Regions from separate parts of the Homo sapiens genome. Here region 1 is linked to region 2. The links come from fine-mapping of genetic effects on gene expression. A gene starts in region 2. The other region holds a variant in brackets. All regions are shown on one strand. Distances are between the middles of the regions.

The links. PIP is the estimated chance that this variant, and not a neighbour inherited with it, causes the effect. A credible set is the group of variants that fine-mapping cannot tell apart.
Region 1: its variant is the best candidate, but not a certain one, in a credible set for the expression of DENND6B in whole blood (TOPMed, PIP 0.80).

The regions. Positions count from the first base shown.
Region 1 is chr22:50,359,603-50,364,968 of GRCh38, forward strand. The region is part of intron 1 of PPP6R2 (protein phosphatase 6 regulatory subunit 2); the gene reads left to right. Among named protein-coding and RNA genes, the nearest start is that of PPP6R2, 19 kb to the left of the region's middle. RefSeq lists an enhancer at 1,852-1,901. The variant A/G (reference allele first, on the strand shown) is at 3,303.
Region 2 is chr22:50,323,841-50,329,206 of GRCh38, forward strand. DENND6B (DENN domain containing 6B) reads right to left here and starts at 3,172. Exons shown (of 20, transcript NM_001001794.4): 1 at 2,972-3,172. The coding sequence starts at 3,148. RefSeq lists a silencer at 2,921-3,560.

The DNA.
Region 1 (5,366 bases), 36 kb after region 2:
GTCCTTTATCCACATGTGATATGTTAAATTAATTGATTTTCGGGTGTTAAAGCAAGCTTGCATTCTTGGGATTAAATCCCCTGTGGTATGGTGTAGAATCCTTTTTATATGTGGTTGGATTTGGTTTGGTAGTGTTTTGTTGAGGCTTTTTACATCTACCTTCTTAAGAAATATTTGTGTGTGACTTTCTTTTCTTTTGATGTCTTTGGTTTTGGTATCAAGGTAATACTGGGACCCATAGAATGAGTTGGGAAATTCTTCATTTCTTTTACAGATCAGATTTCTATCCGGGATTATTTTCCTTCAGGATTTCTTGTAATGTGGGTATGATAAGGACAAATTCCCTCAGCTTTTGTTTGTCTTAAAATGTCTTTATTTATATTTTTGTTTTCAAAGGATATTTTTGCTTGATACAGAATTCTAGGTTAACAGCTTTTTTTTTCCCTTTCAGCACTTTTTTTTTTTTTTGAGATGGACTCTTGCTCTGTCATGGAGGCTGGAATGCAATGGCACAATGTCGGCTCACTGCAACCTCCATCTCCTGGGTTCAAGCGATTCTCCTGCCTCAGCCTCCCAAGTAGCTGGGACTACAGGTGCGTGCCACCACGCCTGGCTGATTTTTGTATTTTTAGTAGAGATGGGGCTTCACCGTGTTGGCCAGGATGGTCTTGATCTCTTGACCTCATGATCTGCCTGCCTTGGCCTCCCAAAGTGCTGGGATTATAGGCGTGAGCCACCATGCTCAGCCTTTTTTTTTTTTTTTTTTAAGAGAGACAGGGTCTCCTCTGCTGCCCACTTGGAAGTGCAAGTGGTATGAACACATGATCATGACTCACTGCAGTCTTGAACTCTCAGGCATAAGAGACCCTCCTGCCTCAGTTTCCTGAGTTGCTAGGACTGCAAGTACATGCCACCACACCTGGCTAATTTAAAAAAAGGTTTTTAGAGATGGGGTCTCTCTGTGTTGCTCAGGCTGGTCTTGAACTCCTGGCTTCAAGCAATCCTCCTGCCTGGACCTCCCAAAGCATGGGGATTATAGGTGTGAGGCACCATTCCTGGCCCAGGAGATCTGTATTTTTATCCCTGTTTACCGAGGAGCCACAGAGAAGCTGGCAGTTAGCTACACTGTCAGAGCTCACAGATAGGACACCTATTGGGTGTGAGCCAGGGAGCTGACCTGTGCTTCTGCCCACTGTTGCTGCTCACACCAGTCTCTCTCAGGTTTGGCACTGTGTAGAGTCTGTCAGTATCTGTTTTCTCTGCTAGACGTCAGGTTCCTTGGGGCATGACTAGGTTTGTCCCATTATTAGCTACATTTGTTGCTGAATGAACTGACTGATGCCCAGTGTCCTCTCTCTGGGCTACTGTGGACAGTCAGACCTTTAGGAGCTCTTCAAGAATTTGACTGTCACTCATCATCCTGTTGACTGCTCCACTTTGAAGACTTGACTTCTCTCTCCTCATGATCCCACCATCTCTAAGCCTGTGGAACTCTGCTCTGACCCTTTCTCAGCTCTTTGCTGTGATGCCCTTCCTGGACTAGTTCGGTCCTGGGTAGTGCCTTCCTGTCATCACCCTCAATCTTGGTCATTCCTTTTGGATTTCCTTTGATAACTCCTTTTTTTCTTCATTGACTCAGTCAGAATCTGGTTATCATATGGAGACTGAGAACATGGGCTTTGCTCTCAGCCAAACCTGGGTTCAAGTTCTAGAACGGATACTTACTAGCCCATGACGTTGCGCTAGTCATGTAATTACTGAGACCTCTGCTTTTTACTTGTGAACTGGGGGTTGGTAGGAAACTACCTGCTGCATTAGGCTTTGAGCTTTGAGTGTACGGATGAAGCCAGCTACTGCCACTCTCCTGTGGCTGCTGGAACCCTAAAGGCAGTTTGTTGGCTCTTACTTCTTCTGTGCGTCTTGTTTGGACTTGAGCTTTGTTCACTGCCCCAGTTTCCTCCCTGCTGCTTTTTGGTGCTGTTTTCTGCTTGTTTGACAATGCTTTTTATCTAGCTTGCCTTCAGCTATTTTTCCTTCAACAGTCTCAGCCCAGAGTATGCCCTGCTTGTCTTCCTTTGACCCAGGACCCAGAGTATGCCCTGCTCGTCTGCCTTTGACTCTTTGTTCTGGTACTTGTTTTCCCAGGATTATATTATTGACAACAAATATAGCATAGGTGCGCTGTCTGTCTTGTGGTGCGCGTAGGTGCGGACTAGGGCCTTGCTGTGGTGGGCCTTTGGTTTCCTGCAGTTGATTGTTTTTCTCTCTAGGCCCCTTGGAGGCATCTGGTATTAGTCACTGTCCTAGGGCAGTGGTGGCAGTCATGACTGTTCTCTGTCTTGGAGTCAACACTTTTACCTGCAGTGCACATGCAGCAGGCACTTGCCCAAGGTTCCAGAGCTGCTCAGTGATGGAAACTGGACTTTATGCCTGGACCTTTGTGGTCAGGGACTGCCCTGATGTGGCCAGGCCTCCCTGGCTCAAGAGGTTCTCTGGCTGCCTGGAGGGTCTGCATTGGGCTCCAGGAAGGGGAGGAGTCGGGGCTAGGGCCCTTAGCACTGGTGATGAGGAAGGTGCATCCTCATAATGCTGGCCATCTCTGTCCTTAACTGGGAGAGCTGCCATGGTTGCTAGTGTTGAGCAGATGGAGGTTTTCAGTTTTCACTTGAGCCTTCATCCTATGTAACAGCCAGGAGGATACTCTTCTGAGCCTGGCGTGGGCCTGACAGCCATCTCTCGGGGCTGTGTGTTAAAGTCACCTTTCTGAGACTTTGGTGGGAGACCAGCTGGGCCTCCGCTGCTGGGAGGAGAATTGCTACCTTGGGAGCTTGAAGACCTTGGAATGTGCAGCGACGTCAGCTCTTCTCAGCCCGTCGCTGAGTCCTTACTGTGTTCCCGTTGCAGAGCACGTGCTCTGCATGGAGGCCTCATGCCATCCTTAGTTGGTGGAAGGGCTCAAAGACAGGCAGGGTGCTAGGGACTGAATTGTGTCGTGTCCACCCCAGATTCCTATGTTGAAATCCTAAGTTCCATTTAGTGGTATTTGGAGGGAGGCCTTTAGGAGATAATTAGGTTCCGTGAGGTCACCAGGTGGGGCTCTCAAGATGGGACTGACACCCTCATACAAAGATACACCAGAGAGCTTGCTCTCACCCTCCCTGCTGTGAGGACACAGTGAGAAGGCAATGGTCTAAGGGCAGGGAAGACAGGCTTTCTCAGCAACCTAATTGGCCAGCACCTTGACCTTGGACTTCTAGGCCCCAGAACTGTGAGGAATAATTGTCTGCTGTTGAAGGTGTTGT[A/G]TTCTGGCCGCCTAAGCATACGAAGACACCGGGTCAGTGGAGGGCAAGAAGGTGGCTGGCTCTCTGGCAGAGCAGTCATTGAAGACTGGCTCCTTAGCCACTGGTGGCCTGAGGATGTATTTAGCTTGTCCTGCATTTTATTGGCCCACATAGTGTTCAAAAGTTAATTATAAACATGAAGATGTGGGGATTTAAAAAAAATGTGGATTTTTGTCACTTCTTGTAGAAGCAGACATGTGCTGGTGCCCTGTGTCCTTGCACGGCTGTGATTGCTGGGGTGGGCCTGTCTCTGCTCCCTTCCATGCCCTCTTGTGCTGCAGCCTTCACTCTGCTGCTGTCTTTTCCGCCAGCTTCCTTCCTTACACTTAGCATCTTGCCTTGTTCTGCAGGCCTTTAAGTTGCAATCTGTGCTTTAGGATGTGGCAGGAGAATCAGCAGTCGGGTGACTGGGCACTTCTCCATTGCCACAGTTAAGAAAGGCTTTTACTTCAGAATTATAGTGCTCTAGTATGTTCATCTCTGAGTAGAGCAAGCTTCCTTTTTTTCCCTTTCATATTCCTGGTGTCTGGAGTTAGCCTAGGCCTGAGTGCTTCCAATGCTCATGCAAAGCTTTTTCCGGAGGAAGATTCTCCACCTTTTCACTGTGTTTCTTGGCTCTTCTTCTTGAGGGCATATGGTAGAGTCAGGAGCTGGCAACCTGCAGAATGGAGAAGCCAGCTCCGCTGTCCGCAGCTGCTGCTCATGAGCCTTTCAATCTCTCTCCTGCTTCTGCTCTTACGGACGGACCTGGAGTCCTACTAGAGCTGGGCTCATCTGACCATTCAGCGTGCTCCAGGGGGACTTGTTTCAGGATCCAGTCTCTGCTGTTTCCTCATCAATTTGGTTCCATTTACTTATTTTACTAGAAAATTTTAAAGTAAAGGGTGAAGAATAACCAAGACAAGTGTGAAAAAGAATAAGAAGGGAGTTGCTGTAACAGATTTTCAAACTTTTTTTTTTTTTTTTTGAGACGGAGTTTTTGCTCTTGTCGCCCAGGCTGGAGTACAGTGGCGCAATCTCGGCCCACTGCAACCTTTGCCTCCCGGGTTCAGGCGATTCTCCTGCCTAAGCCTCCCGAGTAGCTGGGATTACAGGCATGCACCACCACGTCTGGCTAGTTTTTTTGTATTTTTAGTAGAGACGGGGTTGCACCATGTTAACCAGGCTGGTCTCAAACTCCTGACCTCAGGTGATCTGCCCACCTCGGCCTCCCAAAGTGCTGGGATTACAGGCTTGAGTCACCGTGCCTGGCCCAGGTTTTCAGACTTATTGTGAGGCCAGTGGAATGGATAGCCTGGAAAAGGACCCTGTATAAATGGGAACTTGGTATATGAGAGAAGTGTCATACTTGAAATATGTATTTAAAGCAATGTACCATTTTTAGGTATATAAGTCATAAAATAATGAAATTACGGATACTGCAAGTTAGTGATTGTCTCTCAAGAAGGGGATTGCTTGAGTTCCTGGGTTCCTCAGTGTCGTAGAAACATTTGTTTAAGAAGGAGGCACATACAAACAAATGTTAGTGTTTGTTAAGTCTCATCACATGGATATTATGTCCTTCTCTAGACTTCAATATATTTAAAAAATTTCATAATTAAAAATAAAAATATTTAAAACTGAGTTATAATTCTCTGAAAGATATAAACAGTCTTGTGAGAGCACTGAGGAGGGACTCAGAAAGTTGACAAAGGTAGCTATAGATGGTCTTCAGATAGGAAGATCAGGCAAGAGTTTGTCAAATAGAGAAAGTGGGAAGAAGGCATTCCAGTCAGAGGGTCTGTGTGTGCAAAGGTGTTAGCTGGGGGAGACACTCAGCATATTTAGATAGTTTTGGTACGGTTATGGAATCAGGTGGGGATGAGGAAAGAGTGCCAAAGTTGTATTGTGTGCGGGTCCCACTTAATGTGTCATCGTGTAGAGGCTTACAGCAGAAGTACGGTGTATTCTTTATTCCCTGTTTGTCTTTTTCTACCTTATTTTGGATTAAGAATGTTTTTATGTGTGATGGTATTAGAAGGTGGG
Region 2 (5,366 bases):
TCCAGCCTCAGCCTCCTGAGTAGCTATAACTACAGGTGCATGCCACCACACCTGGCTAATTTATTTTTAATTTTGGTAGAGACAGGGTCTCACTATGTTTCCTAGGCTAGTCTGGAACACCTGGCCTCAAGTGATCCTCCTGCCTCGGCCTCCTAAAGGGCTGGATTATAGGCAGGACCACTGCGCCCAGCCCAAGAGGTGAGTTTTCAAGAGCTGAGAAGGCGGAGCCAGGCCCTTTCCTAAGCTGACCTGTACACTCCAGTCACCCCACAGTCCTGCCCAGCCCCTCACAAGCCAGATCCCTTGTCACCCCACAGCCCTGCTGGCCCCTCTCAAGCTGGACCCCTCATCTCTCAAGCAGGCTGCACTGCACTCATTTCCATGATGCTCCCATGCGTACAGTTGCGGGGGTATCCTGTGAGGGCTAAGGGGGAGTCCTGTGAGCACTATGGACTCTGAACCACTTACTCTCCATATCACTGGCACATAGTGTGAACTCCTAAAGGGCAAGAGCCTTGTCTACTCACTTACATGCTGGGCACCAGTATTGTGGGGCTGGGCTGGTGATAGCTGCTCAATGTGATCTACGGTTTTGTTTTTTGAGACAGAGTTTCACTCTTGTTGCCCAGGCTGGAGTGCCATGGCGCGATCTCGGCTCACCACAACCTCCGCCTCCTGGGTTCAAGCGATTTGCCTGCCTCAGCTTCCTGAGTAGCTGGGATTACAGGCGTGCGCCACCACGCCCGGCTAATTTTGTATTTTTAGTAGAGACAGGGTTTCTCTGTGTTGGTCAGGCTGGTCTCAAACTCCTGAACTCAGGTGATCTGTCCGCCTCGGCCTCCCAAAGTGCTAGGATTACAGGCGTGAGCCACCATGCCCAGCCTTCAAAGTGATTTACTGAATGAGTAACTGAATCACCAGCTCCTTGCCTTTTGCTTATGTTGGCATTTTGGGAGAGGGGTTACCTGAAACAGGACCCCCTCCCCTGTCTCTTCTCAGCATCCAAGACTTATTTACCTAAGCCCATTCCTTCCTCTGAGCTGCATGCATCCCAACTAGAGTCTTCCTTCCATATCGCAGAACCAAGCACAGTCCTGGGGCTTTGCAGTGCTTAGCTGGGCTGAGCTGTGACTGAGTTGCACAGTGGGTGCTCCCTAAGTCTGTAAGTGACTAAAACGACCTCGATCTTCCCTGTGACTTCCAGGTGAGGGAGGAAAGGCAAGAGTCATGTGCTCAGGCCCCGGTGGATCCACTGCCAGGTTTCTGCACAGACTCAGTGATCTGCAGGTGCCCAGATCATTGCTATGGAGGGTTTCGCTCATGGACCTGGGTCCCCAACACTCTGCCAGCTGACCATGCCCCTAGTCCGAGCTGAGCATCCCCAGCAAAAGCTCAGGAGTCCAAGCACACACAGCCTTCAACAGCTCAGAAATAACTTTCCGAATGGGTTTTAGAAAATAACACGAGAATGTCTTAAGGAACAGAGGAACCTCCTTTTTTTTTTTTTTTTTTTTTGAGATGGAGTCTCACTTTGTCGCCCAAGCTGGAGCGCAATGGTGCAATCTCTGCTCACTGCAACCTCCCCCTCCCGGGTTCAAGCCATTCTCCTCCTCAGTCTCCCGAGTAGCTAGGACTACAGGAGTGTGCCACCTCGCCCGGCTAATTTCTGTATTTTTAGTGGAGATGTGGTTTCACCATGTTGGCCAGGATGGTCTCAAACTGCTGACCTTGTGATCTGCCTGCCTCGGCCTCTCAAAGTGCTGGGATTACAGGCATGAGTCACCGCGTCCGGCCAGGAACCTCTTAACTTCTTTTGTGATTTTGTGGGGAACAATCTGGGCAACAGTATTGAACTAAGAAAGGTTTTCAACCCTGGGCAGGTCACCACACTTCTTGGTACTCAGCCCCCACCCAGTGATGCTGTTTGAGGCTGTGCACCTGCTGGGGACCGTGTGTGGTGGGAGGGGCTCCAGAGAGTGCTAGAGTTAATGCTTTTCTGTTTAGAAGACTATATGCTTCTCATGGCCTCTTGGAGTTCAGCAGGGCCTTAGAAAGCATCTCCCAACCACAGAGACGCGCTGCCTGGCTTTCCTGATGATGATGATTTGGCCTGATCTTGGACACCTGCGGTAATAGAGAGCTCACTACCCCTCACGAGGTTCCTTGCGCCAGCGCGGGGAAGCCTCCCTCCATCTGCAGGTGGGCCTCCCCTGTGCTGGTCAGCTCCCTGGTGTGTGTTACACAGGACACAGAGAAGATCATCCTGCGGGGCCTCCCTGGAGGAAAGGAGGCTGCCTGTGTGGGTAGGTGAGTGGAGGCCTGCAGGCAGCAGAAAGACCACATCGAAAGCCCATGGGCACAGCCGATGAACAGACCCCCACGAGCAAGAACACCACAAGACGCAGGTGGAGGGACGGGGCCCATGGGGTCTGGATCTGATGCTAGGTGAACAAGGAGGCGCTGCAGGGTTTTAAGCAGGAGAGCCACAAAGGTTGAACTCTGGGGTGCAGCTGGGGTGGGGATGACATCAGTGATGGCAGCAAAGGAACGGATCCGAGACCTTTGTTGCAGAAGGAGCCGTCAGCCTCGCCTATGCCCAGAGATGGGATGCGGAGCGGAGGGTAAGCCCGGGACTCTGGCGGGAGCCACTGAGGGGATGAAGGTGTCACTGCTCCGGTGGGGAATGGAGGGGGGAGATGTGAGACATTTACTGGGAAAAATCGAAAGAGTACCACTTAGGTTATGCAAAATGCTCCATCCCAATGTGAAGACAAGATCCGACTCCGAGCAGCTCGCCTTCCCTCCTCGGCCTGGGGAGCGCTTCTGGAGCCCGGAGAAGAGGCCCCTCCAGGAGGCGGCGGCCGAAGGCCAGGGAGAGTGCGGGGCGGCCGAGGGCCCCAAGCGAGGCGGGACTGGCCCCGAGAGGCGCAGCCCTGCCCACCCGCCCGCGCCCGCGCTCGCGCCCGCTCACCTCCAGCGCCTGGCCCAGCTCCAGGTCGAAGGTGACCACGCACACACACTCCAGCCAGGCGGAGAAGCGCGCCCAGGGCGCCGCCGGGGTCCGCGCCGCGCGACCTGAAGACGTGGGTCCAGCCGCGCCCAGGCAGCCGCGAGCCCGGCGAGGCCCTGTGCCCAACAGCGCGTCCATGGCGGCGGCCGCGGGTTGCCGGGGAAACGCGGGCGGGGGCGGCGCGCGTCCGGGCCGCTCCTCAGAACAGTCGAGCGGCCGCCGCGGCCCAGTGCGGCTCCCGCGCGGCCGCGCGCCCCCTAGCGCCCGAGAAGCGCCAGCGGCCGGGCGCCGCCCAGGGCACCAGCGAGCCGGACGCGCGCGGGCCAGAGCGGCCGGAGCCCACTGGGGGACTTCCGGGGAAGCGGCCGAACTGGGGCCTTCCAGGGTCCACGCCGTCTGAGGCCCGAGAGAGTCGGTTCGGCCCCGGTGTTCGCGGATCCCGGCTCGCGGGAGCCTCGGGGCCAGGCCAGGGAGGCAGAGCAAGCTGCAGCCAGCCGGCGCCGGGCTCGTCGGGCTTCGCAGGTCCGGCCAGCCTACCTCGCCCCACCGCGCAGGGGCCAGCGGCGTCGCGGGCGTTTTCGTGGCGGAATGGCGTCCTCACTGAGCGCCCAGCCACCACCGCGGACTCGCGCTCGCTTCCTCTGGGGCCCGCGCGGCCTGGGGTCGTGTCTGACCGCGGGTGTCCACGCAACACCTCTGCAGTTTCACTTTCCGGGGGAATCGCGGGGACCTGGAGCGAACTCTTCCCTCCCTCGCGAGGGCCCCGGGCCCCGCTGTGGTCCACAGAGCACCTTGAGGCCCGGCGTGGAAGGGCGAGTTTGGGGCTGTCGGTAACTTAATGAGGCACGCCTTTGAGTCGTGGGCCTCATGACGTTTCCGTGGAAGGCGGGCCGCATATACTGTGGTGGTCCCTTCAGATTACCACGTGTTGGCCAGACGCGGTGGCTCACGCCTGTAATCTCACCGCTTTGGGAGGCCGAGGTGGGGTGGCGGATCACGAATCCAGGAAATCGAGACCAACCTGGTGAAACCCTGTCTCTACTGAAAATACAAAAATTAGCCGGGCGTGGTGGCTGGCGAGCGCCGTAACCCCAGCTATTGGGGAGGCTGAGGCAGGAGAATCGTTTGAACCCCGGAGGCGAAGCTTGCAGTGAGCTGAGATGTCGCCATTGCACTCCAGCCTGGGCGACAGAGTGAGACTCCATCTCAAAAATAAAAAAATAAAAGATTACCACGTGTTGTTCGGATCATCTGGCCTAGGTGTGGGGTAGGCTGTCCCATCTAGGTTTGTCACATAACAAAATCGCCTAATGACACATTTCTCAGGACATAGCTTCACCGTTGAGTAGCACATGGCCGTATTGTTTTTTGTTTGTTTGTTTCTGTTGTTTTTTTTGAGACAGAATGTTGCTCTTGTTGCCCAGGCAGGAGTGCAATGGCATGGTCTTGGCTCACTGCAACCTCTGCCTACTGGGTTCGAGCGATTCTCCTGCCTCAGCCTCCCGAGTAGCTGGAATTACAGGCGTGCACCACCACGCCAGGCTAATTTCTGTATTTTTGGTAGAAACGGTTTCACCATTTTGGCCAGGCTGGTCTCGAACTCCTGAGCTCAGGTGATCTGCCCGCCTCGGCCTCCCAAAGTGTTGAGATTACAGGCGTGAGCCACTATGCCAGGCCCGACTGTATAGCTTTTATTTTTATTTTTAGAGGAAAGGTCTCACTCTCTCCCAGGATGGAGTGCAGTGGCCCATTGCAGCTCACTGCAGCCTCGATCTCCTGGCTCAAGCTATCCTGCCACTCAGTCTCCTAGGTAGCTGAGGCTACAGGCACACGCCGCCATACCCCATTATTTTTTTATTTTTATTTTTTGTTCGTTTTTGTGGAGATGGGGTCTCGTGCTGCCTGGGCTCATTTTCATTTCTCTTGGGCGTGCATAGAAACCAAATTGCTGAGGCATAACCTGGGTATATGTTTAGCTTTCCCCAAAGCAGCCATACATTTAAAAACATTCCTACCAGGCCAGGCGAGGTGGCTCATGCCTGTAATCCCAGCACTTTGGGAGGCTGAGGCTAGTGGATCACCTGAGGTCAGGAGTTTGAGACCAACCTGGCCGACATGGTGAAAACCTGTCTCTACTAAAAAATACAAAAATTAGCCAGGCATGGTGGCGGTCACCTGTGATCCTAGCTACTCAGGAGGCTAAGGCATGAGATCGCTTGAACCTGGGAGGTGGAGGTTGCAGTGAGCCGAGATCAAGCCACTGCACTCCAGCCTGTGTGACAGAGCGAGACTTTGTCTCAAAAAAAGATAAAAAAAGAAAATGGAAACATTCCTACCAACAGTTTATGTTTCCTTT